Linked DNA regions of Homo sapiens: all the other regions are linked to region 3. The links come from fine-mapping of genetic effects on gene expression. A gene starts in region 3. Each other region holds a variant in brackets. All regions are shown on one strand. Distances are from middle to middle.

Evidence for each region.
Region 1: its variant is fine-mapped to the expression of BCAS1 in visceral fat (GTEx, PIP above 0.99).
Region 2: its variant is fine-mapped to the expression of BCAS1 in whole blood (TOPMed, PIP above 0.99). The same link has a PIP of 0.9 or more in blood mononuclear cells.

What each region holds. Positions count from the first base shown.
Region 1 is chr20:53,995,671-54,005,753 of GRCh38, forward strand. BCAS1 (brain enriched myelin associated protein 1) reads right to left here. Exons shown (of 13, transcript NM_001366298.2): 5 at 222-380. Among named protein-coding and RNA genes, the nearest start is that of MIR4756, 68 kb to the right of the region's middle. The variant G/A (reference allele first, on the strand shown) is at 4,337.
Region 2 is chr20:54,042,180-54,052,262 of GRCh38, forward strand. The region is part of intron 3 of BCAS1 (brain enriched myelin associated protein 1); the gene reads right to left. Among named protein-coding and RNA genes, the nearest start is that of MIR4756, 21 kb to the right of the region's middle. The variant G/A (reference allele first, on the strand shown) is at 6,151.
Region 3 is chr20:54,064,334-54,074,416 of GRCh38, forward strand. It overlaps BCAS1 (brain enriched myelin associated protein 1), which reads right to left and starts at 6,261. Exons shown (of 13, transcript NM_001366298.2): 1 at 6,100-6,261. It overlaps MIR4756 (microRNA 4756), which reads right to left and starts at 4,152; the gene lies at 4,075-4,152. RefSeq lists an enhancer at 4,980-5,854.

The DNA of each region.
Region 1 (10,083 bases), 69 kb before region 3:
CACTGCTTATACCATGGTTCCGAGCTTCAGGGGCTCTCTTGCTAAAAGTCTGATATAACACAACTTTCTTATGAAGCATATCTTGTCCCTGTTCTCTCCCATGCTCCAACAGCACCATGATAATTCATTTAGTACAATAACATTCAAATGTGCATTATTCTTAGAATTAACAAAACTTTTGAGCAATAGAGTGGAGGGGAAAAGAGGAGAAAACTGCTTACCAGAGTTTTAAAGAAACTCATGATGGAATTATTATTCTCTGCTATAGCTGCTGCCTGGGAATCGTCCTTTGCAGTCTCCAGTCCTTCTGGGTCCCCAGGGACAGAGCAATCCGCAGTTCCAAGTTCTTGTCCTTCTTTTTCCTTGCCGTCAACTATGTCCTAGGGGCAAAACAGTTGTCACAGTTGCCACTTGCTGAATGTGAACTCTCAAAGTCATACTTTTGCTTCACACCCCTTTCTCTCTTACCCCCTAATTCCAGCCATACTTCTTCTGCCCACAGGCGTGCAGAACAATCATGAGATTATAAGAGTCACTCTTCCTTCCCTCCCCCTCTTTCTAACATATTCAGCATTTGCTGTTGGTTGGAGGGACATTGTTTGGAGCCAAAGGGTAACAAACACAGCAGTGCACGTTGCATTTCAAACAAAAACCCTTTTCTTCCAATTCTGCAAAGAAGTTGTGTAAGGTATCGATATTTTCCATCTTTATAGTCTCCTTATCTATGATGTGTACATTATCCCCAGAGATGGCGTTTCCCACAATTTCCACAGAGTTGGATTATATCAACTAAAAAAAAAAAAAAAAAAAAAGAAAAAGAAAAAGAAAAAGTACTGGTGTTTAAAAATAACTATTTTGCTTTTGAGATATGAGGTTCATCTGTGCAAGGGGTGTGATAGGGGAACTGATTTTCTCCCCGACCTCCTCAGGAGGGTAGGATGCGTTCTGAATCTGCCTTCCTTTCACCATCTCACCTCTCACGACCCCAGGACAGGAAGCTACTGCCTCTCCACCTTCTGACTGCAACAGCCCTGGCCTTGTCTCTGGTTGGGCTCTTGACCCTCACAATACATTCTTTACTCAACAGATCCCATCTTCCCACTCCTTACCACCCTCCAGTAGCTTCTGACAGCTCTTGGAGTCAAGCCCAAACTCTGATGCAGGATCTCCAACGTCTAACATGGTCTGCCCCTGCCTAAATCTCCATCCTCTCTGTACCACGTGCTCCTTCATTCCATTTTCTGGCCCACTTTCTTTGAGTTTTTCAAACATACCACAGGTTATTTCCAAACTTCTGGCTCTCTGTTTGAAACATTCTGCTCCTCTGTCTGCCCGTAGGTAATTTCCATCCATCCTTAAGGTCATAAGTGTCATCTCTTTGGAGAGATTGTCCCTAAACATTCATCTAAGGCTGTCCTCCCACCACTGTCGTCTCCACCAGAGTCCCTTGCCCTTTTAAAAATCTTTGCTGTGTCAGCAGTTCTGTTTACTTCTCAGTCTTTGTGCTTTTCCTCATACTCCCATTAGACTACAAACTCGACAAAGACAGGGATAATATCTACTTCACTCAGTGCTTTTCTCAAGTACCAAGGACAGCGAGGCCCACAGAAGGCATTCAATAAATATGTATCATTTATGAAAATTTTACAAACATAGAATAGTGCTATCTGTACCAGCATAAATTCTCATGTGACAAAGTAGTACAGAAACTTCCCATTGCAACACAGCTAAACCTGCCTCATTCTTTACGACTCAGGTGACATTTATTCCATTGCTTGGTTATAACATTGTTTATTGTCTAATATCCTTATTGATGGACATTCACAGTGTGTATAGTTGTACATCTAGAGTATTATAAGCAGTAGTAAAGTGATCATCTCACACTTTTATTTTTAAATACTCATGTATCTATATTTTCTTTGGGTAAATTATCAAAAATGAAATTTTTGGGTCAAGAGGTATGCAAATTATATAAACTTGATGAATATTCTTGCAAAAAATGAGAAGGTTTCAACAGAGAGGTCCTGCAGGTACATCGGTGCATCTGAGAAGCTGTTTGGTGCACCGGAGGTTGTGACAAGTGAGACCTAAAACGTATCCGGGCTGGGCAGGTTGGTGCATGTGGTTGTGGCCTGGCAGTGGGGAGCTTGGTCTGGAGGTGGGTGGAGTGAGGGAGGCGGACTCGACTCTCACCTGCTGGTTGAGCATCGTCTTCACTCTTCGCCCTCCCTTTCATCCCCGTGTAGTCCTTCCTTTCATCCCAGGGCTGTGGGTTCCGCCTTCTCCACACCATCTCCCTGCCCCCATGCTGCCAGTTCCCTTACTTAGAGGAGAATGAAAGGAGACACTTCTGTTTCCTCAAAAGCGATTTCTAACAATTCGCAGTGTGTGAGGTGGCAGAAGCCCACAGAAGACTTGGTATTTCTATTTTGACCCCTTCTCTCAGTAGTGGAGAGTGGGATATGGTGGCACTGCATTTAGACTCCTGGATTTTATACTTTCTCCTCTGGGGTTGGCAGTGTCTGGACAAGCAGTATAAATTGATATGGGTTGACTATCCCAACCACTGAGATACAATTCAACTCATTTTAATGGACGATTGTATTGGGCCATTTTTTGCGTTGTTATAAAGACATACCTGATTCTGGGTAATTTATAAAGAAAAGAGGTTTCATTGGCTCACAGTTCTGCAGCCTTTACAGGAAGCATGGGACTGGCATCTGCTTGGCTTCTGGGAGGCCTCAGGAAGCTTACAATCATGGCGGAAGGAGAAGTGGGAGCAGGCACAGCACATGGTCAGAGCAGGAGCAAGAGAGAAAGAGTGGAGGGGGTGGTGGGACAAACTTGCAAATGACCATATCATGTGTGAACATAGAGCAAGAGCTCAGTTACCACCAAGGAGATGGCCCAAGCCATTCATGATGGATCCACCCCTGTGATCTTTCACCAGGCCAAACCTCCAGCATAGGGGATTACAATTCAACATGAGATTTAGGTAAGGACAGATGTGCAAATTACGTCAACTACTTATTAAGCATTACATGTACACCAGTGCTTTCTCTTTCCTAAGCTAGTATAATTTGAACAAGGTCGCTTAATCTTAATATATTATTATTTATTATAGAATAATATACAATGCCAATACGTCAAATATTTTACATTTACAGCATGCAAACCACTATACAAATAAATGCATTAAACATATGTCACTTAATCTTTACAACAATCTTCTGAGACAAATATTACAATTAACAGTTTCAAACAATGAAATGAGGCTCAGAGAGTTTAGGTTACTTGTCTAAGGTCACACAGCTTGAGAGAGGCCAATATGGGGATTATAAGTCAGGCCTGTCAGAACTGAACATCTTAAAATTCTATAGATTATTTGGCTATGAGTGTCAACTTTGCTAAACTTATATAGTGTGTGCAGTAAAATGTAACATCATATAAATTAAATCCAGGTGGTGGAAAACCAAGATCCTCATAGGGAGTGTATATAAATATAGACTACATCCATAAATTCCACCAGTAAAAACCCTTCATAACTTAACTCTCCCAAAAAGTACTGCACTTATAACTTGTTTAAACCATGTCATCCTTACGTCTTAAACAATGCTTGTTTATGCTTGTATAGCTTTACAGTTACGAGGTGCCTTCACAAATCTATCTTATCTAATCTTTGCCAAGATTGTGCAAGGCAAATTACAGATGAGAAAACTGAGGCCCAAAGAGGTTTAAACATCATGTCCAAGGCCACAGTTGGCAAGCGTAAGCATTAATTTGTTTTTGCCTAAGTAGCATTCCTCACTCCTTGTGACAACAGGACCCTCCTGCTCATTCCTGGAGAAGTGCCCCTCTTCCATTCCATTCTCATTGCTTTCCTGCCCGTTTTTTTTTGTTTTATTTTCCCCCTGGGTCACTCTTTTGTAACCCCAGTGACCTGCTTGCTCTTCTTTGAACATGTCAAGTAGGCTGTTGCCTCAGGACCTTTGCATCTGGGCTGAGCTTCTGCCTGCCAGGAGCATGTGACCTTACTTCTTTCAAGTCTTTTTCAATTGTCACTTTTTTCTTTTTTTTTGAGACAGAGTCTCACTCTGTCACCCAGGCTGGAGTGCAGTGGCATGATCTTGACTCACTGCAACCTCTGTCTCCCTGGCTCAAGCCATTTTCCTGCCTCAGCCTCCCAAGTAGCTGGGATTACAGTGTGTGCCACCATGCCTGTCTAATTTTTGTATTTTCAGTAGAGATGGGGTTTCACCGTGTTGGCCAGGCTGGTCTTGAACTCCTGACCTCAGGTAATCCCCTCACCTCGGCCTCCCAAAGTGCTAGGATTACA[G/A]GCATGAGCCACTGCGCCTGAGCCAATGGCCACGTTTTCATCGAGGTCTTTCTTTACCACTCTACTTTAAGTTGCTATAATATATCCCGGCATATCTGATGCTGCTAATTGCTTTATTTTTCTCCTAGTAGATTTCACTTCTAATATATTACTGGCTCCTCTTCCCCCTAAGGACATCTGGTAATGTCTGGAGACATTTTTTTGATTGTCACGAGTAGCGGGTTAGTGATTTACCACTGGTATCTGGAGGATAGATGCCAGGCATGCTGCTAAAATTCCTGCAATGCCCAGGACAAAGAGTTATCTGGCTCTCAGTGGCAAGACTGAGAATTATATTAAAACTCTCACTTGTCATTTTGTGTTTTGTTCCTCTCCCTTCACTGGAATAGAAACCAATGAAGGTTCTTTTTCTCCCTTATGTTTCCCCAGCACCCAGACTTGTGCACATGGTACAATCTCAAAAATTACTAGTGAATGAATGAACAAATGATTTAATCCAAGTGAGAGTATCAGTCATCAATTTTTAGCCATTATGATTTCAAATATTTTTTCTTCTCTCCTTTTCTCTCCTTTCATGGACTCCAATTACCTGCCTACTAGCCTACTTGAAGTTATCCTGTAGCTCATTAATGTTCCTTTCTTCCTTCTTTTTGAAAAAGCCCTCTTCCTTTTCACCCACTGCCCTGTGGTTCCTTTTGGATAGTTTCTATTGCTGTGTATTTAAATTCACAATTTTTTTTTCTGCATTGTCTAATCTGTTGTTAATGTCATCCAGTGTATTTTTTACCTCACACACTGTAGTTTTTATCTCTAGAAATTTGATTTGGATTTTAAAAATATATCTTCTATGTCTCTACTTAACTTTCCAAACATATGAGACACATTTATGCTAATCCTTTTTATTTTTTTGCCAATTCTAACACCTGTGTCAGTTCTGGGTAGGTTTTGGTTGATTTCTCTTCACATCATGAGTTACATTTTCCTGCTTCTTTGCTTCCCTGGTAATTTTTGTTTGCATGTCAGACATTGTGAATCTTACCTGTTTGGGTGGCTGGATATTTTTTGTTCCTATAAATATTTTTGAACTTTGTTTTTGGAGGTAGTTAAGATACTTAAAATCAGTTTGATCCTTTTAGTTCTGGCTTTTAAGATTTGTTCGTGAAACTGACTTTGCAAAAATTATGAGTGAAAAAATTATGACTGTGAAAGAGATCTGACCTAACCAACACCATCTTGCCTTTAACTTCCAAGCTGCCCTTGTTCATTCCTGGGGGTAGGCCACACTAACTTCGGGAGGAATTTAGTTATAGTTTAACTTTGAAACAAAGATAATAACAGTCCCTTCCCCAAACAAGCCCCCTTTATTCTTGGGGACCAGTCCACCTTTGTAAAACTAGCAAATTAGACACAACATTAGAAATTATGGCTCAGGAGTCATACAGCCAGAGGCCACAAGATTCTTCACCTCCCCAGTTGTTCTTATGGATAACATTACTGCTGTAAAACCTAATATTGGTGTTTGAGATATTTTTCAGACCCTGCATTCTGGTCTGGCTCATCTGGACTTGCGGCCCCCACCCAAGAACTGACTCAGTACAAGAGGACATCTCTGATGTCCTATGATTCTGCCCCCAATCAACTAATCAGCATTCTCCACGCCTTAGCAATCTGCCCACCAAACTGACCTTAAAAAACTCTAGCCTCTGAATTTTGGGGGGAAGCTGATTTGAGTAATAAAAAAGTTCTAATCTCACATTTAATTGGCTCTATGTGTAGTAAACTCTTTCTCTATTGCCATTCCCCTGTCTTGATAAATTGGCTCTGTCTGGGCAGCGGGCAAAAATAACCCATTGGCAGTTACATTAGGTAGGACCAAAATCGTGTCTAGTCTAGGAAGCTAATATTTTCTCGCTAATGAGGAAAGACCCTGTGACTACTCTACCCAGTGCCTTATTAATAATGAGGTTTTCTAGTCTGGCTGGTGAGAGAAGGCACTCTCTCTGGCCCTGTGTAAATGCCTTTCTGGTGGTTGGTTTTTTTTTTTTCCCCCTTCAGTCTTTGCTAGTTTCCTCATATGAACATATTGGTCAGCTCTCTGCCTCATACTATGTGAGGACCTTTGACAGACCCTTGGAGTTTGCTCTCTGTGTATCTCTCTCTCTCCTCTGATGCTTTGTCTATGAACTCTGGCCACCTTGGGCTCAGGGAGCCTGCTGGGCTCTGCCTCAGTTCCTCCCCCCTAGGCTATGGGCTGGAAACCCTCTCAAGGCAGTAGGTAGGAGCAGACACAGGGATTATCTCTTATGTCCCGTCTCTCAGAGAACACCTATCCTTGTTGCCTGATATCTTAAAACAGTCTTAAAAATTGTTGTTTGGTTTTTTTGTCCAAGTTTTCATCTGTTTTAGGCAAGAGGGCAAAGCCAGTTCCTGTAACTCTCCCTTAGCTGAAAGCTTCTACTCTGTTAATAGTAGAGAGTGTTGACTTCCTGTAGCTGGCTACAGGTGAGTTCGTTTTTGGTGATGCATGAATCTTGAGCTACATTATCATGTGAACAGCAATGAGGATCAAATCAGGTCTGAAAAGAAGTGAGCTCCCTAAATTTGAAATTAATAAGTGTATTTGAAATATGAACTTTGTCACCAAAATTAATAATAAATCTTGTTCTAGGGGTGTAGCAGATCTTTTTATATTAATTAGTGATAATGATTATGAACATTATTTATAAATGAATAAATGAAGGGAAGAATGAATGTCAATGATCAATCTCTCTTTCTTTCCCATAGACTGATATTCAATTGAGTAATTTTGCAAACAAGAATTGAAGCTCATTATCTCTTACTGCTATTTGTTTTCCTAATTCCCCTCTCATCAGTACCCATCATACTGAATCATAATTGATTAATTGCCAGTATCACCTGCTCAACTGGGCATTTGAGGACAGGCACTGCGTGTGTCTCATTCACAACAAGATCAAGTGGTTGATAAAAGTTCCAGTGCCTGACAAAGACTCCATATTCACCTCCCAGCTCCACTCACAGGTTGAGGAACCCCAGCTGGGGTCTTAGCCTCTCTGAGACAAGGTCGTCTCATGGAACACAAGATTAATAATAAACCTTGCCTGGTATAATTCGTTGTGAGTTTCCATAAGAAATAATGCATGTAAATTCCTTAGCATAATGCCTAGTATAGAAGTGTCCAATAAATGTTAGCCAAACAGACAAAAAAAAAAAAAAAAAAAAGCAATGAAAATGCCATACAATTTGCAAAGTTCCTGACACAGAGTAGATTCAGGAGAAACATTTGTTAAAGGATGAAAGGATATGGAGTAAATTCTTTTTTCTATGCCTTTGTACACTGTGCTCTCCAGCTTCTGTCTTCCCTTTTGAAATCTATTCTTCACGATTGGAATCAAGTCTCCCTCTCCCACCGACGTTTTTCTGGGTCAGGCCACCCATGGACTCTGTCCCCTTCTCTGAATTTCTATACCACAGTTCTCAGCACTCAGTTGGTACTTAGATTATGCACTTAGACCAGCCTAACACCAAAGGCCAGGTTGGAATAGTTTGCATTAAAAATGGGGCTTTTGTGAAATGGCTGCAAAAATACAAAAAGCACATTTTGGTGAGTATTTTAAAAGTAACAATAATACACATATTCTACAAGGGTTTCAATCAGCCCCAGGACTCTTTCTAAATGGAAGCATATTTCTTGTGAAATGCCTCATGAGCAGCTGAAGCTTCATAAAACTAAAAGCAAATAAAAGCCATGGTCTTAATAGTCTTGTTAGGTTTTCTGGTTAATTCTGGGAGAAAAGTGTTTTGCTTTGGAAGAGATGTACTTTTTAAAAACAGGTTCTAATATGAGTTGAACTTTTAAAAACTAACTCTGAGGTATAACTGGGATCCAAGCGGTTAAGCTGGTTGATTAGAAGGATGGCTGCAAATTCTATTTATAGCAGATGAGTGTTGATATACGTATGAGGAAGGCGATTTTATTTTAGGTGGTATGTCCGCGCACACACACAGTTATTCTTTTAATGTGTATTGTGGACTGAAAGTTTGTGTCTCCCCAAAATTCATGTGTTCAAATCCTAACTTCTGATGTGATGGTATTAGGAGGTGGGGCCTTGGGGAGATGACTAGGTCATGGGGTGGAGCCCCCATGAATAGGATTAGTGCTCTTATAAAAGAGACCCCAGCGAGCGTTCTAGTCCTCTTTCCATCATTCCAGGGTGCAATGAGAAGCTGGCCATCTGCAACCCAGAAGAGGGTCCTCACAAGAACCCAACCATGCTGGCATCTTGATTTCAGACTTATAGCCTCCAAAACTGTGAGATATCAATTTCTGTTGTTTATAAGCCATCCAGTCTATGGTACTTTGATAGCAGCCTGAACTAAGACAATGTGCACTAGAAAAATATGTCCAGCATCAACCTTTTCATATTATGGATATTTTTGTGTAGGTGAAGTTCAATATAAAGTAAACTTTAAATAAAGCTATTACATGAATAACTGAACAGGTGTCTTGAAGATGAGTCATTATGAAAGTGGCACAAGACATAAATCTAGACTGAGAAATTCCCCACAGGCCTAAGTAAGGTGTTGCCCAGGAGCACCATTCATGAATTCATCCTCACTCAGTAACTATGTGGGGGTAGTTACATTACATACAAGCTGTGCAGAGGCCACACAGCATTAGCATGGGCTCTGAAGTTATGCTTTCACTGTGTATTGTGGACTTAAAGTTTGTGTCTCCCCAAATCCTAACCCTCAATGTGACTACATACAAGCTGTGCAGAGGCCAGCTGCCCAGGTCCAATCCCTGCTCTGCCATCTACACCTCTGCAGTACTGCACTTTCCCTAACTCTAGGTTGCAATTTGCTCATTTGTAAAAGTGGGGTGATGAGTAGCACCTGCCTTTTAGGGTTGTTGAGGGAGTAAATGGGATAATCCATATAAAGGACTTAGGAGAATGTGCAGTACAGAGGAAGCATTCAGTAATGGTTAGCTATTATTATTGTGTTTAATTTAATTACTGAGCACTGTGGTAAGCTGTGAGATTTACAAAAATGAATCTGACACTGTCTTCTCTCCTAGATGCTTGGAGCCTTATGGTGGATAAAGGTCAGTAGATAGGGACAAGTACTCTGATAAAAAGACAAGTGAGGCTAAGCACAGTGGCTCACATCTGTAATCCCAGCAATTTGGGAGGTCAATGCAGGAGAATTGCTTGAACACAGGAGTTCAAGACCAGCCTGGGCAATATAGTGAGACCTTGTCTCTATGAAACAAAGCAAAAACAAAACAAAACAAAACAAAACAAAACAGAAATTAGCCAGGCATGGTGGCATGCACCTGTGGTCCTAGCTACTTGGGAGGCTGAGGCAGGAGAATTGCTTGAGCCAGGGAGGTCAAGGCTGCAGTGAGCTATGATTGTGCCATTGCACTCCAGCCTGGGTGACAGAGCAAGACCCTGTCTCAAGATAAAAAGAAAAAAAAGACAAGTTAATTTCATCAGCCCAGTGGGTCTCAGCATAACTGGATTTTAGAATCACCTGGGCAGCTTTTTAAACAAATGCCAATACCCAGATTCCACCCCGACCAATTACATTAGTCTTTTTGGAGGCGAGGCTCAGATGTCAATATTTTTAGACCTCCCCAGGTGATTCCAGTGTGCACCAAGGTCAAGAGTGACTGAACTAGAAGGGAGAGGGAGACTTGAAGATGAAGCAGCATTTCCCCAAGG
Region 2 (10,083 bases), 22 kb before region 3:
ATAAATTATCATATGTCCTTGAGGACACAGGGACACAAAGAGGGGAATGACAGGCACTGAGCCTACTTGAGGGTGGGAGGAGGAAGTCGATCAGAAAAAATAACTAGTGGGTACTAGGCTTAGTACCCGGGTGAAAAAATAATCTGTACAACAAACCCCCATGACATGAGTTTACCTTATAACAAACCTGCACATGTAATCTGAACCTAGATAAAAGTTTAAAAAAATAAATAATCATATGTCCCTACAATGAAATATTCCACAGGCATTAAAATTCCCCAAGGAATTTTAGTAAGGAAAGAAAAAGCTGTGCCCAACAGCACGTACAGTATGTTTCCATTTGTTTTTAAAAAATGGTGTCGGGAGGTTGAGGAGACAACTTATAAATAGACATGCCTGGGATACCTCTGGATATAAGAAACTGTAAAGTATTTACTTCTAAGGAAGGAAATTTGGGATGGGGCTTGGGGAGCCATCAGAGTTAGGGTGGGGATTTTTTCTCTGCCTTATCTTATTATGTATATCGCTCAGAATGTTTGCTATGTGTATGCACCTACCCCATCCATTAAGAAATGAAGAAATAATGAAAAGAAAAAATGAAAGTAGGGAACTAGAAATGAGAGGTGGGATTCAAAGTGGACTGAACACTTGACCTATTTCCCAATTTGCCTAGGGCTGGCCCAGCAGCGAGGCAGGTTCTAACCAATGAGCATCAGCTTTGAATGGAGGGGCTGATAGGCCAGGTGGGCCCTGCTTGCTGAGAGTGTCATGGCCTTAGGGACATCTCCATGTTGCAGAGTCTGAGCCTCTGCTTGGCAAATTCAGAAAATCCAGCTTTTCTTTTTATATCACCTGGAGCTGATGTAACTCTCAGAAGGCATTTTTAAGAGGACTCATGAATTAACCACATAGCCAACTTACTGGCTTAAGACTACGTGACAGAAAGCTGCAAAGGGGGCCAGCCACTGGTAACATCCCACCACTGTCCCTCTCTGTGGAAAACACAGATGGGATGCACATTGTGACGGGCAGGATGCCTGGAGAGCCCACAAATCTGCAAGCACAGCTGAAATTGGTTACAGGATTTCAATGTTTCATTGCTTGAAGCTATGATAACTTGATGATGATGATGATGATGATGATGATGATGACGATGATTTTTTTTATAGCCATCTTTTTAGAGGGATTTGAGGTAGGGAAAAAAATAAACCTCACACTATCGGAGGTTGCCAACTATGAGGTCTGCTGATGGTTTGGCCAACACAGTGTTTATATTTTTTTGAATTGGGAAATTTCATTTAAAAGTCCTAAAATCAGGCTGTTATTGAAATATCTTATTATTGGCTCAGGGTTTCCCAGGGCAGCCATCCTTGAAGCTGTGTGGAGCCCTATAAACAAGGACGCTTTCCAGTTCCCTGCAAACTCCATTTCATTCAGAGCCTTGAGCCAGTTCTTACATGGTCCTCAGACTTGAGCTAGTGCAAGAATACCCGGGAGGGGTTGTGGGAACAGATAGCTGGGCCCCACCCCCAGGGAAGGGGGTGTTTCTGACTCAGGAGGTCTGGGCTCCGGCTACAGAAACTGCACATCTAACCGGTACCCAGGTGATGTGATGCTGCTGGCCCAGGGACAACTCTGCGAGTCACTGCTATTGGGCACTGCTATTGCACCCACACAAGGAGGCAGGCTCTGCTTACATTTTTCAGTTCTTGTTCCCAGAAACATTTGCTCTTTGGGGTATGCTTTGCATATAATGGATCCTACCCACTAATACAGTATGCTGCTTTTATTGATAAACTTCCAGAAACTTGAAGCGCACCTTACCATTTCTTTGATCTCGCTGATTATTTTTATTTTTGTTAAATGAAAATTGTTGGTAAGTTCTTTTTGGTGTGGTAAAAGGATATGAAAAGCTGATTTTAAAAAAATGTCCACTCTAGGATTAGAATTGTAGGTGTGTTTATTCTATTTCAAGATCTGGTTAAAATGCACCTTGAGGAAAAGAATTGAGTGCAGCTGTTGTTATTTCTCAATGCTGTTTCTCTTTTCATGTTTTTTTCATGTTGTCTCTTGGTCTGTCCTATCTCTCTTGGTCTATCCTCCAAGACAGAGATGAGTGATCTTGAAACCCTGCCCATGTTTTTATCTTTGGAGCCCAACTGTGCTGCCTTGTTTTCTTCTCCATCCAAAGAGGCAAAGAGAAAGTTGCATATTACTCAACAGCAGTTGCATGACAGTTAAAATCAGACTGTATGAGTCATGGAACAGTAAGTTGTGTCCAGAGTATCTGTCATGGTAAGTACAAAAAAGTCCTTAAAAATTTAAAACAGAAATGCCAATGTTTTATTTTTGAAAAATGTGAAGAAGAAATTTTCCGGCCGGGCGCGGTGGCTCATGCCTATAATCCCAGCACTTTGGGAGGCCAAGGTGGGCAGATCACCTGAGGTCAGGAGTTTGAGACCAGCCTGGCCAACACAGTGCAACCCCATCTCTACTAAAAATACAAAAATTAGCCAGATGCGGTGGCACGCGCCTGTAATCTCAGCTACTAGGGAGGCTGAGGCATGACAATCGCTTGAACCCAGGAGGCGGAGGTTGCAGTGAGCTGAGATCATACCACTGCACTCCAGCTTGGGCAGCGGAAGGAGACTCTGTCTCAAAAAAAAAAAGAAAAAAAGAAATTTTCTAAGTGTATTCCAAATAACTTTTAATATTGGATAAACATTACGAGTTTAAAAATACTTATGCCAGAGGAGTGCTGTGACTCGTGCCTCTAATCCCAGCAATGTGGGAGGCCAAGGAGGGACAGTCACTTGAGCCCAGGAGTTTGAGACCAGCCTGGATAACAAAGGGAGACCTCATCTTTACAAAAAAACTAAAAAATTAGCCAGGTGTGGTGGTGTGTGCCTGTGATCCCAGCTACACAGGAGGCTGAGGCAAGAGGATTCCTTGAGCCCTGGAGGTCAAGGCTGCAGTGAGTGATGATCATGCCATTGCACTCCAGCTGGGTGACAGAGCAAGACCTCATCTCAAAAAAAAAAAAAAAACAAAACAAAACAAAAAACTTACGCCCAGGTAAAAATTGTCAGAGAAAAATAAGAAAAAAACTGAATGCCCAAAATTAGCATAATGGCTGAATGAATTATAGTATGTCTATACCTTGAAGTACATTGTAGCTTTAAAAAAAATGAATTAAAGTTATACCAGTTGAATTTGGAGTTGAGATGGGGAAGATTATTACAATTAAAAAAAAACAAACACTATTAATGGATGTGCTGGGAAATGTCTGTATGGGGCTAGTTAAAGTAAATTAAAATAAAGACCAGACCTGAAGAATCCCTGAGCGGACAAAGCCTGTTAGACCACATAAATGAGCTAAACCTTGCTTGATTTGCAGACATAAGCAAAACAACTCGAACTGTTTCTTGTAAATGCCTATGCTAAAGAAAAACAGAACTTGAGCTCAACCAATCAGAAACAGTCAACAAACTTAAAATTATATAACTGGGTACCTTCCAATGAGATGATCAAATAAGGCAACTGTGTAATTGTAACACATCAAACACATTTTATATTATGCCTCTGCATTTTCCCTTAATTCTGGCATGTAATGCTTTGTCATCAAAACACTAATTCCCTTTTGGTTTTCTTTTCTCAAATTAATGAATTGCCTCTATTCAGATACACTCTTTGAAATTTTATTGTGTCTCAGATTTGTCTTTTACAAAGTATAGAACAAAGAGAAAAATATGAAAGAAGAAATATTAGGTTGTTAGCTTGGGTGTCCTTGGAGGGGGTAGGGAAGATGTGAGATGAGGAAGAAGCCAATAAGAAAAAGAAAAAGACAGGTTTCACCAAAACAACAATAACAGAAAATATGATTGCATTTATTCATATATGTTAATTGGTATGTATGTAAGTATATATGCATGTAAAAATAAAATACAAAGAATTAAAATGCATACTAATAGTTATTTCAGTTATCTATGGCTGTGTAACAAGCATCCCCAAAATGATTGACTTAACCACCATTTTATTAGGTCATGATTCCATGCATTAAGAATTCAGGGCCGGGTGCGGTGGCTCATGCCTGTAATCCCAGCACTTTGGGAGGCCAAGGTGGGTGGATCACGAGGTCAGGAGTTTGAGACCAGCCTGCCCAACATAGTGGAACCCCGTCTGTACTAAAAATACAGAAGATTAGCTGGGTGTGGTGGCGGGCACCTGTAATCCCAGCTACTTGGGAGGCTGAGGCAGGAGAATCACTTGAAGCTGGAAGGCAGAGGTTGCAGTGAGCCAAGATCATGCCACTGCACTCCAGCCTGGTGGACAGCGCGAGACTCCATCTCAAAAAAAAAAAAAAAAAAAAGAATTCAGGCAGATGCCAGGTGCAGTGGCTCATACCTGTAATTCTAGCACTTTGGGAGGCTGAGATGGGCAGATCACCTGAAGTCAAGGAGTTCCAGACCAGCCTGGCCAACATGGTGAAAACCAGTCTGTACTAAAAATACAAAAATTAGCCAGACATGGTGGCACGTGCCTGTAATCCCAGCTATACAAGAGGCTGAGGCAGGAGAATCACTTGATCTGGGACGTGGAGGTTGCAGCAAGCCAAGATCGTGCCACTGCACTCCAGCCTGGGTGACAGAGTGAGACTCTGTCTCAAAAAAAAAAAAAAAGAATTCAGGCAGAGAGAGGATAGGATCAGCTTATTTCTGCTCTATGATGTCTGGAGCCACAGCTGGGGTGCCTTGAAAGGATGAAGATGGCTGGGACGGCTCACACAGGGACATATGTCTGGAGCTTTAGTTCTGGCTATGGGCTGGTTCCTATGGTCCTTCCTCATACGGCATCTATTAGCTGAAATGCCCATGATGTCTTCTTTAATCACAGGTCTGGTTCCTGGACTGGGATGGCTGGAATATTTGGGAACTGGCTGGGTACCTCTCTCTTGCCTCATGGCTTCTTCATGTGACTAGCTTGGGCTCTCTCACAGCATGGCAATCTCAGGGTAGAACTTCTGATATTGTGTCTAGCCTTTCTCAGAGCTAGTGTTGCAAGAGACAAGGCAGAAGCTCCGAGTCTTCTTAAAAGGCTTCTTGAAAGTCCTGTGTCATCCCTTCTACTACATACTGTTGGTTATATAGGACCAGCCCAGAGGGGACTACACAGGGGTGTGAATACCAGGAAGCATGGGTTATTGCGTGGTGGGTTGTATGTGTGCATCTTTGGAGACTATCAACCACAATAATGCAATAGGGAAGATAATTTTATCTAACAGGAATTCTCCACTAGACTTTTTGGTGAGAAAAAGCACTGAGTTTGAGAAGGATGAGATTTCCCCAGGGCTCTTGCTCACTCCCAAGGAAGACAGAGGCACAAGGAGCTGTTGGGCCATCTGGGAGAGCCAGTGTTCAGAACTCTCTGTTATTACTTTAGACTCAGTGGTGATACAGTGCAATGGAGGGAAAGAAGAAAGGAGAGTGCCTGTGAGTGTTACCAGTGGAGAGTTGTCCAGGTTCTTGGTGTTTTGAACAAAAAAATTGGACAAAATGCACAAAGCAATGAAAGCACAGATTTATAGAAATGAAAGTACACTCCACAGAGTGGGAGCAGGTTTGAGCAAGTGGCTCAAGAGTGCTGGTTACAGAAATTTCTGGGGTTTAAATACCCTCTAGTGGTTTCCCATTGGTTACTTGGTGTATGCCCTATGTAAATGAAGAGGATGAAGGGAAGTTACAAAGTTATTTACTTGGTGTACACCCTATGCAAATGAAGAGGATATTTCCTGCCATAGCTGAAGTGCAGTTACATCCATAGTTGAGCATAGAAAGTTGTGGGTTTTCTGCTTGATTTAGTTCTAGGAAGTCCTTAGCTTCCCCGCCTCCAGACCCTATTCCCCTACCTCATGAGGATGGGGTGTCTCACAGAGTTTCAAGGTGGAGAGTTGAGGATAGGGAGCCTCTTGAGTGAGAGACATATAGCAATGTGAGGAGAGAGAAAAGTGGTGTTTAGGATGTGAGTTAGATCTCCTTAATGTCTTTTGAAAGGCCAGAGTGAGGATATGAACTACTTTCCTTTGCTCAATTCTAATAATTCTTTGGAATCACCTCTGGCAGACACTGTTTGTGGCCTGCCCAATAGCCAATC[G/A]TCTCCAGCCCCAACCATGTATTATTATTATTCACTTGCATCTCAAAGAGATGCTTGATTCCCAGTATCCCATGCAGCTGGTATGGGCCATGTGATGTAGCTCTGGCCAATAAGAGGATGCCTACATGGTGGCAGAGGCTTCAGGGAAGGATCCTCCTTCCTCGCATAATACAAGGAGAAAAAAAAATGGTGGCAAAGTTTGGCCTTTCCTCTCCTGCTTTTGGATCCCATGATGTAGAGATGTGATGTTTGGTTCTGTGACAGCCATCTTGTGAGCAGGAGTGACACAATTGGCTCATGTACTTGGTGTTTTGATGAGGCTGTCAGACTGCTGTACCAAATTTAGAACTGCCACCTCCAGACTTCTTGCTCAAATTAAAAGTGCTATTTACTTATCCAGGGTTGCATTCCTTGAAGCTGAGTGCAGCAGAGTCTGGGAACTTGCCCTTCGGCCTTATTATTTTATTCCTCTGCTACCACTGGCTTAATATGCCACTGTTCATTGATCAACCATTTCTAAGTCTTTAGTGTATCTCAGGCCTTGTGCTGAGCTCTGGGACCCTCATAACAAGAAAGGATGGCAAGCGTCCTGCTCTCAGGGACTTTTACTTGAGTTTGGAAACAGATAAAAAATAAGATCAATTGGAGGGAAATAGTGGACACTAGGAGAACACATGTATTTGCTCCCTTCCAGACAAGTGCTGTTGCCTATATTTTTTACTACATCAGGGAGCTATGCTTTTTGGCATCAGGTCTCCCATTCCACTTTGACTAGGCATTGATATTGGCAAATGCTTCTCTTCTCACTCATTATGTTATTGGCAGGAGCACTTTTCTCAAGTTAGAATTTTCAATCCAATAAAATGATTCCACTTACATCTTTTTTTTAAGAAAAGCAAAATTAGTCTATTCTTTTTAGGAACAATGACTAGGAGCAAAAAAGGAAAATACTAATTTTAGAAACCTTTTATCCAGGTCAAACATTCCTTCTGTTTCTGGAAAATGACGTGTCCTGGCAGGGAAGGCATGTCTTAGTCTCTGCCATACGTTAGCAGTGAGGCCTGAGAACTAATGTCATAAATTTGCTAGAAAGGAATCAAAGAAGGCCAAAAATCAGGCATTTTTATTTCTCCAAAGATCTATGAAGTTTTAGGCATAAATAATATGCAGGTGGGAAAATCTGGTCAGGTGATATGTCAGGGAAAGCCAATGGTAAAGAATAAGTATGAAAATAGCCTCTACTTTTTTTTTTTTTTTAAATAGAGATGGGGTCTCTATGTTGCCCAGGCTGAACTCAAACTCCTGGACTCAAGCAATCCTCCCACCTCAGCCTCCCAGAGTGCTGGGATTTTAGGCGTGAGCCACTGCACCCATCCCAATAGCCTCTACTTTTAGTTTTGCCCGGACTCCTTTATTTCAGCACTTTTATCTTGTGCCAGCTGCTGTTTTTAGAGCTCCCCTACAAAGTTCATACTATTATTCCAGTTTTACAGATGAGACTCAGAATAAACTTCCTTGCCAAGGTTGTACAGCTAGTGAGTGGCAGAGCCAAAACCTATGCTTGGGTCTGTTAGAGTCCAATGCTTGAGAGGATATGGTTCCATTTCCGATTGCTGTAATGAATTATCCCAAATGCCCCAGCACAAATATATTACAGTTCTGAAGCCTGTAGGTCAAAAATGGGTCAGCTTCTAGAAGCTGTAGGGGAGAATCTATTTCCTTCTTTTCTCTGGTATCCAGAGGTCACCTACATTCCTTGGCTTGTGGCTCCATTCTCCAGCTTCCAGTCCAGCAGTGTAGCATCTTTAAGCCTCTCTCTCTTTGTGACATCTGCTCCCATAATCACACCTTTTCCTACTCCAACCCTTCTGCCTCCCTCTCATGAAGACCCTTGTGATCACACTGGGTCCACCTGGATAATCCAGGATAATATCATCATCTCACATTCCTTAGTCACATCTGCCAAGTCCTTTTGCCATGTAAGGTCACATACTCATAGGTGCTGAAGATTAGATGTGAGCATTTGATGGGAGGAAGGGCACCGTGCCTTGTGCTGGACTCTTAGCTATAATACTCTGTGGTCTCATACATGAAGAAATTGCATAAGTAAGTTGCACTCCCTAGTGTATGCACTCTCAGTGGGGATGGTATTAATCCCAAGAGGGCGAAAATGGTTCTATGGGAGAGGATGAACAAAACTCATTCTTTTTACGTATAGAGCACAGATACAGTACATACACAGATACACGTCAGTGATATTACAATTTCATGAATGGGATGCGCTTAGCTCTTAATGCATTACCTCGTCTAGTCCTGGATGTCACCTGCGAGGCCAACGTGTCATCTCACTTGCCCACCTGCCTTCTTTGCCCTGGCCGTCCACGCTCTGCCTCCCCTTGCGTCCCTCCCCAACACCTCAGCTCTGCTTGAGTGAGAAGATGACTCTGGGGTCCCCCTTGAGAACATATGTGCCTTTTAAAACTATGTTTTTGTTATTGAAGAACAAATGTTAACTAAATCACATCAGCATTAGCTGCACTCTCACAGAGCTTGGTTTTATGCTAATACTGGCCATCTATCTCTTTAGGTGGGTCTTTTGCAAAGAAACAAACTAGAAAACAACTATATTCTCAAGGTGGTAAAAAGCCTTTTTAGGTATTTCCTTCCCAGAATCTCTAGGCTTAGGCTTTCTCTTCTCTTTTTAGCTTTTGAGTGAAAAAGGTAAGGAGCAGCCGTCATTCTCCTTTCTTATTGGTGGGAAAGTGATTGTTGCATATTAATAGGGGTTGTGGCACCTCCGTGGTAATGTTTCACTAAATGGAACAGCATATTCTCTTTCTAGGATGATTAATTTTGTGTGGCCTGACAGTGGTGTGTGGGACTAAATGTTCTGTCCTTTCTAACTGCCTGATCTCTGAGCCATGGGAGATTGAGTTTCTCCTTCACAATCCACCAAAGTTTGCATGTGAACAAAACAGGGGATCTCTGTACGCAACAGGAGGGTGATGTGCTCAACTGTGAAGTGTGGTCCTACTTGAAGTTGTCTGATTCAATGAGATGCAATAAATTAACATACCACATGTATTGGGGGGAGGTGAAGAGGTACCAGATGACAGTCTCCTGAGGTCTCCCTCTCTTGGGCAGTATATGGGAGGAATGGGCTGACAAAATAGCTAAGAGATGTCATCTCTTCACAAAACACCTCCCCATCACATTACTTTCTTTTGTGCAGACTCCTCCTGCCCCCAGTGATGAATCCAGAGGAAGCAAAAGAACTGGTTGAGCAGAAGACACCCTTCTAACATAGCAAATGATCTTTCCCCCCATTCTTTATTGAATTTATTTTTTTTCTTTAGTTGATGTGAGCTGCTTTTGACTATGCTGGTTTTTTTTTTGTTTGTTGTTGTTGTTGTTGTTGTTGTTGTTGAGATGAGGTCTCTGTCTGTCTCCTAGGCTGGAGTGCCGTGGCACGATCTTGGCTCACTGCAACCTCTGCCTCCCTGGGTTCAAGAGATTCTCCTTCCTCAACCTCCAGAGTAGCTGGGATTACAGACGTGTGTCACCACGCCCAGCTAATTTTTGTATTTTTAGTAGAGACGGGGTTTCACCACGTTGGCCAGGCTGGTCTCAAACTCCCAACCTCAGGTGATCCACCTGTCTCGGCCTCCAAAAGTGCTGGGATTACACGCGTGAGCCACTGCACCCAGCCAACTATGCTGATTTTTAAAAAACTTCATTGTACCTTAACAGCATTTACAAAAATCAGATTTATCTGATTGAAGTATAATTCACATACAATAAAATCCACCAACTTTAATAGCACAATTCAGTGCATTTTGACAAAATATGCAGTCATGTAGCCTCCACCATGATGAAGGTATAAAGCTTCTCCATCATTGCAAAGTTTCTCGATGCCCCTCTGCAGTGAGTGTC
Region 3 (10,083 bases):
CCTGGCTGCTGCCTACCCTGACCTAGACAACCAAACCCACGGATTCTCAGACGGAGGAATAGCTCAGGCTTCGGAGTCCACAGACCACCATCACCCAGGCACCTGAATACACTCACAACCCTTCTAGGGGCACTGCTTTGCTGACGCACTGTTTCGTGAGCTTGCAAATCAAGAGAACTGTCCTGGGCCTCCAGCTTCCCTTCCCCCAGAACTGGCGGGCAGGGCAGGCTTTCCAGCTGGTTATTCAGAAGCAAGCCCAGATGCCCCACCGGAGGTGGGTGGAGGCTGCCCTCCGCAGTCTCGCTCTCCTGCATCTCTGGGGTTCCCCTCTCTCCTCTTGAGAACAAGAGATCTGGAGTGAGACAGGCATCCGTAAAATCCCACGATCGTGAGGCTTTGGGCAAAGCACTTGACCCTTCTGAAAGTATCTTTCTTGTGGAAAATGACAGTATTCATAATGGTGGCAATAATAAACACATTTAGAGTGTTTTCTCTGTGCTGAGCAGTTCTGATTTGCATATATTTGCCTCTCTTGGTCCTCCCAACAACTCTCTGAGTTAGGTACTTTTATTTTCCCAGTTGTCTTATGAGAAGCCGGAGCACAGAGAGGTTGAGTGGCATGTCCTGATACATCGTGGTACCGTGCGAAGGGGTAAATGTGATGGGAAAGTGCCTGGCAGGGCGAGCACCTAGTAGCTATTAGTGATATAGATGTCCCAAACTCAACTCATGATGGTTCGACTGACAATATTTCAACTTTATGATGAGTATCTATCTATCATCTATCTATCTATCTATCTATCTATCTATCTATCTATCTATCTATCTATCATCTACTTTATCTATCTATCTCACACACACTATATATATAACATATTTACAATGTTTAGGGTATTTTATTTTGGTACCAATTTTCCAGGACTATATATCTATATTTCATATTTTGGATATCTTGTCCTATTCCTCGATGACTTACATTGCTTTGCTAAACGTTTTCTCCTTGGAAATATGCTGTTCTTTGTTTCTCCCTCACAATAAGTGGAGCACAGCGTTTCTGGAGTCAGGAGCGATTTTGGCCCCGAAGGGGCATTTGGAAATGCCTGCATGCAGTTTTGATAGTCACGGTTCAGCTTTGGGGGGCGTGCACTGGTATCCGGTGGGTAGAGGCTGGGGACGCTGCTACATACCCTGCAATGCCAAGGACCGCCCCCTTCCCCCAGCGAAGAATTGTCTGCTTTGCTGAGGGTCGCTAGTGCTGATATTGAGGGGCCCTGCTCTAGTGCCTGGACTTGGGGATGTTCTCCTCGTGTTTGTAGCCAGGTGTCACCTAGGGATCTGCATTTCTGAAAAGCACGTGAGTAAATTCGTCTGTGGTGGTGAAATAGCGCAAGCCCTCTGCCTGGGCTCCCCTCTGGCTCACCCTGGCCATATGCATAAGCCCTGGCTCCGTGTCTGAGAAGTGAGGGGTGGAGGGAAGGACCATAATAGATTCCTTGCGTGGAGCTCCTGTGAAGATTAGAAGGGTGTGGCCCATGTGTTGTATAACTGGGTGGCTGGTGCACAGCAGCTGAGGAATAGAGATAAGCTGTTAGTATAAGCAGTAAATAAAATGGACCATACATTAGCAGTAGTAATACCTAATATTTTTGTAGCGCCTACCTTATGCCAGCCATTGCTCTGAATGCTTCTCTGTGTTAACTCACAGCTTCCTTATCAGAACCCGATGAGGCAGGTATTTTTTTTCTTTTTTTTTTTTTGAGGCGAAGTCTGGCTCTGTCGCCCAGGCTGGAGTGCAGTGGCGCCATTTCGGCTCACTGCAAGCTCCGTCTCCCGGGTTCACACCATTCTCCTGCCTCAGTCTCCCGAGTAGCTGGGACTACAGGCGCCTGCCACCACGCCCGGCTAATTTTTTGTATTTTTGGTAGAGACGGGGTTTCCCCGTGTTAGCCAGGATGGTCTCGATCTCCTGACCTCGTGATCCGCCCGCCTTGGCCTCCCAAAGTGCTGGGATTACAGGCGTGAGCCACCGGGCCCGGCCGAGGCAGGTATTTTTATTGTCCCCATTTTACAGATGCAGAACCTGAGCCCAGGGAACTTAAACTCCTCACTTAAGATCATGCTATGGATTGAAATGTGTCCTTCCAAAATTCGTGTTGGATTCGTGTTGAAGCCCTAACGTGCAATATGACTGCATTTGGAAATGTGGCCTCTAAGGAATCAAGGCTAAATGAAATCAGAAGGGTGGACCTTGATCTGATAGAATTAGTGTCATTATAAAAAGAGACACCAAAGAGCTCTCTCTGTCTCTCTCTCAACCGTGTGAGGACACAGCAAGAAGGCAGCTGTTGGCTAGCCAGAAAGAGTGGTCTCACCAGAAATGCATCGGCCAGAACCTTGATCTTGGACTTCCAGCCTCCAGAACTATGAGAAAACAAAAATGACTGTTGTTTAAGCCACCTAGTCTGTGGTGTTTTGGTTACCACAGCCCAAGCTGACTAATACAGATCATCTTCTAGTAAGTGGGAGAATGAGGACTTAACCCTCGCAAACTCAAGTCCAGAGTTTAGACTTTTAACTTTTCTATTTTCATACTTTCTACTGTCTCTTCTGCTGTATAAGTGATGTTATAGTTTTATGAAATATTTATATGTAATATAATAGAACATGGAATAGAAAATATTTCCTGCATATTCATTCTTGCAATGAGAAAATTATAACTAGGCAAGGAATATATATGGTACAATCTAAAGTGAGGATTAGGCCGGGCGCTGTGGCTCATGCCTGTAATCCCAGCAGTTTGGGAGGCTGAGGTGGGTGGATCACTTGAGGTCAGGTGTTTGAGACCATCCTGGCCAACATGGCGCAACCCTGTCTCTACTAAAAATACAAAAATTAGCCAGATGTGGAGGCACAATGCCTGTAATCCCAGCTACTTGGGAGGCTGAGGCAGGAGAATCGCTTGAACCCAGGAAGCGGAGGTTGCAGTGAGCCGAGATCACACCGCTGCACTCCAGCCTGAGCGACAGAATGAAACTCTCTCAATAAGTAAATAAATAAATCAAATAAAGTGAGGATTGAACAATTGAAGGGTCACTGATAATCACTGTAAGGATTTAGCGCCAGGGCTTGGCAGTACTCAGGTGAGTAAACGTTAGTTATTGCTAATATTATTCATTTATCTTATTATTGTTATAATTGAGTTAGTTCTGTGTTCTGATCCATGAGTGAATTGGCCTCCTGGAAGCTGCCCTCAAATCCCTCCTCTTTTACACAGTGATTGATGGTCCATGTCGCCTCCTTGTAGTTACAGATTAATAATAGGCCCTCCTCCTGGAAACAGGCCAAACGCCAAACCCCATGCAAGCTGGCCTGGAGAAAGCACTTCTGAAACTTCATCACCAGCAGGCAGCTAGACGACTGTTGAATGGGAGGGGGGGTGGTTTTGAAGGGTGGAATGGTGACAGAATTAGTCACCAAGTAAACAAGCAACACCTTCGATCAATGCAATGGAATGTAGGTAACCCAGGGGCCCTCCTCACTGCTCAGCTGAGGGTGACGCCAACATGGCCAGGCTGGCACACCCAGCAGAACCAGCCCTCTGCCCCCAACATCAGTAAAGACCTTGCAGGAGGAAAGAACAACCCCGCTTTGCCTGCCCCACAGTCCTGCAGCTCCATGTGTGTGCCCGCACAGTGCTAGGAACACGGCAGCTATTATCAGGAGTGCCAGGTACAGTGCTACAGGTTGCCTCCTGTACAAGGGGACACAGGGAACTGAAATCCAGTCCTCACTGAACTGCCCAAGCCCTGATTCCTGGTATGGGACTTTGTGGGTCCAGGGGCAGGGGTGCCTTGATCAAAATCACCTTGGATGTTTTAGGGCTGCTTGGTGATTGATGTTTTGCTTTCGGAGTACTTAATTATGTTTGCACAAACGGATGGTAATCCTAAAAATCTTAGAGCTCGCTCTCATAGTCTTATTATTGCACCAAACATTGTTAAGTGCATGATAATCGCAGGTAATTTTAATTGGAGGCTTACTATGTGCCAGGCAGCACCAGGGTGAGCATAGCAGGACACAAAATATAGGAAGGCAACCATCTCTGGTGCAGAATCGGCAGCAGAGAGTGAGCGCCTCCCTGCATTTTATCCCCCAGGTGCTCACTGGCTTCACCCTTGCCCTGACCCTGGTGCCAGGCACTTCACACACATTGTCTCCTTTTCCCTTGCAGAGTCCCATTATTCCCTGATTGCACAGATAAAGAAACCAAGGCTGAGCAATGCCATCCCCTCATCTCACGAACGTCACCTCCATGAGGGTAGGCACCTTACTAGTCCTACTTGCCCAAGAGTAGCAGTCAGAAAGCTACGGGGAGGCACACCTGGGGTTTGAACCTGGGTCCACGTGACTCAGGCACTCAAATCCTGAACTGCTTCAGGGCAGGGCACTTGGCTTGAAGAGAAGCTGCAGACACAGAGACAATCAAGTCACATCTAATACTCCAGCAGGACAGATGAGCCTGCAAGGTGCAAAGGTACCCCCGCCCCCAACCCAAAGCCTTTTTCAATTCCTCTCCCTCCACATCTCTTGTCATGGTAAAGCAGGCAGAATCCATGGGCTTTAACGGGCCCATTGCTTTTCCCAAAGCTCATGCCTTTTTCCTAAAAACAAAACCCTTCTGGGTTCCAGAACTCTTTGGAAAAAAAGAATCTTCTGTGATTTGGGACATTGGTTTGTTCCCCCACCCTCACTTAAATGAGAAACTACTTTAGCATGCCCCGCCCCGTCTGTTGTCTTTATTTAGGAGGAAGCACCCTCTACATACCCTGAGTATATACACCCAGGGCCTGAAGCTGCTGTGATCAGCTCAGGATCCCCAGGAGGCTGAGGCGGATCAGGCCCTGGACTCCGGGGGAACAATGTAAGGGACACCAAAAAGCTCAGCCATGGAGATGAATAGTATTTTAACATGAAATTTGTGAAAATCAAAATTACCGCTGTTCCTGATCTTATCTTTCTGTAACATGTTCATAGTTTGTTCATCACGGGTGTCTTGCCATTAATTCTGACTTTTAAAAATGTTGTGTTAACATACCGTTTATCTCCATGACTGAGTTTTTTGGCATCCCTTACATTTCGTGCCCAAGGTGAGAGTCTCACTGGCTGCACCCTCATCCCAGGCCCGACTGGACTCCAGTTCCACAGCATCCTTTCCATGAGACCTGGAACCAGATGCAGCTCCCTCTTCACCCAGCTTCATGTTCCTAGTTGTAAAATGGAGACGATGGTAACAGCGAAAACAAGAACCACAGCTAAGAGTTACTAAGTGCACAGGTATTTACGGGCAGTAGAGTCCTCTCAGCCCTTTGATCTCAGTACTGTTATTAGGTTCACTTTACAGATGAGGAAACTGAGGCCCAGAGGGCTGAGGGAACCTGCTCCAGGGCACCCAGCCAGCCCAGGGTGGAGCTGGGGCTGGCATCTGGCGGTGTGGCTGCAGCGCACCCGCATTCTAATCGCAATGACTCTTCCAGGCAGGAAACTGGTTCAGAGGGAGATGTAAACAGCAGGGGTCCTGAAGCCAGGATTTGAATCAGCAGCTGCCTCATAGGGTGGTCTTGAGCGTTAAATAAGATTCACAAAAGGCACTCCACAAGTCCTTTTTCTTGTCCTCCCACTTCTTTAGGCAATGCCTGAGGTGAAGGCTCAGATTCCACTCGGCTATGGGGCATTCTTGCCCTGACGGATCCCCAAATCACACAGCCTATCCCTCCATCCAGTGACTTCTCCCCATGTCCTGTGCTTGAAATGACCCTCAATAGTTCCACCAAATAGGAGTTATTTATGTGGCTATGCGCCTAACACTGACCACATTGTCATTTGCTCCTTGTAAAACTAAAAACTTTGAGATGAGTGCTATCTTTGGGTCCATTTCACAGATAGTGGAACTGAGGCTTACACATATCCAAGGCCACACAGTGAACAGAAGGCAGAGCTGGGATCAAACTTGACCCTGTCTGACCCCTGGCCTCTATATGACACCGTCTACCACAAACAGCAAACCCTCCAGCCATGCCTAAAGGATCTGAAAGCAGTTACCTGCTGAGCCCCTGTGGGAGTATCTTCAGTCCCCTCGTGTCACCCGGAGCTGCTCCTGCACAGGGTCCTGGGTCTCCAGTGCGTGCTGCCCAGTGCCTGGCTGTCGGTGGAGCCTGGCTCCCTGCACTTTGCTTCCTTGTGCAGAGCCTGCTGGCTGAATACACAGAGCAGGGCAAACACAAGCCTGGGTGGAGTCCTCCCTTCTCCCCGGACCATCCTGCAGAAACAGGTTCTCTTCCTGATGTGGGGCTGCCCTCCCAACTCCAATAAAAACTGAGCACCTGACTCCTCTCGCATTAATGCCTCCCTGGCACCCCAAGTATTCTACCCAGTGCCCCTCACCTACTGAGGCTGCCGGGTTGACCTGGGGAAGCAGTTTCCTTCCCCAGTAACCGTAGGTCATGGTCAGAGCAGGGAAAACACGTTCTGTGAGATTTTGTAGTTCTGTCTGCTGACTTCAGAACACCACCTCCACCACCACCTAACCACCTAATTGGAAGGAAATAGCTTCTCATCCACTCAACTACCCCTAGTCATGTAAACCTTATTCCCAAAGGGGTTTGGACACCAGAAATCAGGTAACCTGAGGGTGGTTTATTGCTCTGGAGACATACCATGATGTTGGAAAGGGCATTCTTTTTCTTTGCAGGCCAGAAATTCGACAGGCTATGCAATTTATTTAATTCAAGCAAGGATGTTGTTTAAAGTGTCTTACAAGGACATATACAATAGATTATGAGAGCATGAAATAACATGTAACAAAAGAAGATTGAAGAACAAAATTTGGAACATCAAATGAGAACAGGATCAAAAATAAATGCTCTTGTTGATTTACAGACTTGCTATGAAGGGTTTGCAGATATGGCTTTGAGCTTCCTAACAGCCAATGCAAGAAAGGAAACTTGATAAGTTACACTACTTAGTGCTCTGGAGAAGACATTCAAGAGAATTGCGACCAATAATTATTGTGGTTTTATTCAACAGTATACTCAGCTTAACCCCTATCATGAATACTTGTCAAGCACCAGGCTATATATATAAGCCAGAGTTTAAAGAGGTGAGTAAAAGATGCTGGGTCTCTACCCTTCTTGCACTCAGTGTCATTGGACATAGAATCCTGTAAATATAAACATAGAATTACAGGGTGTGATTCTCATTATAAAAGAAAAGCCAAGGCAGCTAAGGGAGAGAAATAGAGAGAGCTGGGGAAGGCCTCTTTCAGAAATCAACATTTAAGAAAAAAAATACTATTTAAATAAATGCTGAATACACAACCAGGCACACCGTAATTAGGGTTGTAAAGTCGATTCCAGCTCAGCACTGTACATGTCAATCTGGAATGTAGTAAACCCAATTATTAAGCAGCTGCCATGCACACGCTCTGTGCTGACCCAAGCCTGGAGGCTCAGGAGCTTGAGCTCTGGCCCTGGGTTGAGACAGACAAGGGCTCGGATCTTGATTCTTACTGATCGGCTGTGGAATTATGAGCAAGCTACTGTACTTCCCTAAGTCTCTGTCAGCCCCCTCAGCTGTGTGCTCCTTTGTGTTTATTTTGCATCTATTCTTGTATCCCCAACTCCTGGCACCCTGCAAAACGAGGATGGGGATCCCTCTATGATAGAGTAGGTACTCTGCAACTCCTGGCTGATTGGACTTGTTCATTCTTTTTTTTTTTTTTTTTAAGACGGAGTCTTGCTTTGTCATCCAGACTGGAGTGCAGTGGTGTTATCTCGGCTCACTGCAACCTCTGCCTCCCAGGTTCAAGCAATTCTGTTGCCTCAGCCTCCTAAGTAGCTGGGACTACAGGTGTGCACCACCATGCCTGGCTAATTTTTGTATTTTTAGTAGAGGTGGGGTTTCTCCATGTTGGCCAGGCTGGTCTGGAACTCCTGACCTCAAGTGATCCACCCGCCTCAGTCTCCCAAAGTGCTGGGATTATAGGCGTGAGCTAACACTCCCCATTGTCTTGCTCTCTTTTAAATTATACATGGCAGTAACTGCCATTTGGATGGCATTAGTCTTTGCAAAGCCTTTTGTGTTTATCCGTCCATTTCATTTATGTCCACAGTGAAATTAAGATCTTTTGCTCCCATTTTACAGAAGAAAAACATAAGGTTTAGGGATATGAGTGATTTAGGAGATTAAGAAAAATCATTCAGGTGGGGGCACTCAGCAGTGTGTCTGGCAAAACGTAGACCATCACCAAGCATCAGCTGGTGTAGTCAAGGGTGTTGATGAAGGATCTGGCAAACTGTAGACCATCACCAAGGATCAGCTGGTGTAGTCAGGAGTGGTGATGAAGGGTCTGGCAAACTGTAGACCATCACCAAAGATCAGCTGGTGTAGTCAGGAGTGGTGATGAAGGATCTGGCAAACTGTAGATCATCACCAAGGATCAGCTGGTGTAGTCAGGAGTGGTGATGAAGGGTCTGGCAAACTGTAGACCATCATCAAGCATCAGCTGGTGTAGTCAGGAGTGGTGATGAAGGATCTGGCAAACTGTAGATCATCACCAAGGATCAGCTGGTGTAGTCAGGAGTGGTGATGAAGGGTCTGGCAAACTGTAGACCATCACCAAGCATCAGCTGGTGTAGTCAGGAGTGGTGATGAAGGATCTGGCAAACTGTAGATCATTACCAAGGATCAGCTGGTGTAGTCAGGAGTGGTGATGAAGGGTCTGGCAAACTGTAGACCATCACCAAGCATCAGCTGGTGTAGTCAGGAGTGGTGATGAAGGGTCTGGCAAACTGTAGACCATCACCAAGCATCAGCTGGTGTAGTCAGGAGTGGTGATGAAGGGTCTGGCAAACTGTAGACCATCACCAAGCATCAGCTGGTGTAGTCAGGAGTGGTGATGAGGCAGGACCGGCTACATAATCTGCTGAACCCAGTGCAAAACAAAAACGATGAGCCCTTTGTTCTAAAAGCAGGGAAAAGTACCGTTAAAGGTATGAAACATAAAGCTGTTTTCTCTCCTTCCTGGTCTCTTTCTCTACCTGTCATGTATTTTACTTATTATTTGAAGTCATTCTAAGGGAAGAAAAAATAAAAATGTAAGTGATCAGCGTGAGTTTTGCCATCCGTCTTTAGATCAAGCCATGCTGGTTTGAAATGCAATGAACTCGAGGGCAGAATCACCAAAATCATACGACTTGTATTTTGTAGTTAGTTACGGGGCCCCCGTAGTCTGTTCTCACTAAAACAGTGTAAACGCTGCATAGAAGTCATCATTCAACTGTTTTTACTCTACCTCTGGATACTCACCCATTCTACTAATGCTCTCTATCTTCAGTTTATTGATGAATAAGGAAAAATCAAAAGAAAAAGAAACTCTAAGCTGCCCTATATTTCTGTCTTGCTATGTTATCATTTTCAGCACAAGTGGTTGGCCCTTACAGGGAGGTAACCTGGGTAAGAAAGGCTAGGATAGGATTCTTTTGTTGTTTGTGTTTCTTAGAATGTGCTGCCTTTTTTCTGTATTGAAGATAATTTCTGATTTGCGTGGAAAGCCTGGACTCTTGGGGTGTCAGTGCCTCCACATACTCAATTGCAGCTGTAACTCACATGTGTTTTACTTGCTTTGAGGCTTACTGAATAGTCATGAACTCACTGGCATTCTCTGCTCATGGGCATCATGGATGTTATATGTGAATAGGTGGCAATGAACAGTAGACTTGCATATTGCTTGTATCTCATGACTATGCTTCATTGTCTCATCAGATTTTACTTACTCAACCCAAGTTCAAAGATAACACTACAACTGACCCTTGAACCACAAGGGTTTGAACTGCATGAGTCCACTTAGACATGGATTTTTTCCCTTCTTCTGCCACCCCTGAGACAACAGGACCAACCCCTCTTCTTCCTCCTCTTCCTCAGCCTATGCAATGTGAAGATGACAAGGAAGAAAACCTTTATGATGATCCATGTCTACTTAATGAATAGTAAATATATTTTCTCTTCCTTATGATGTTTCTTAGAATG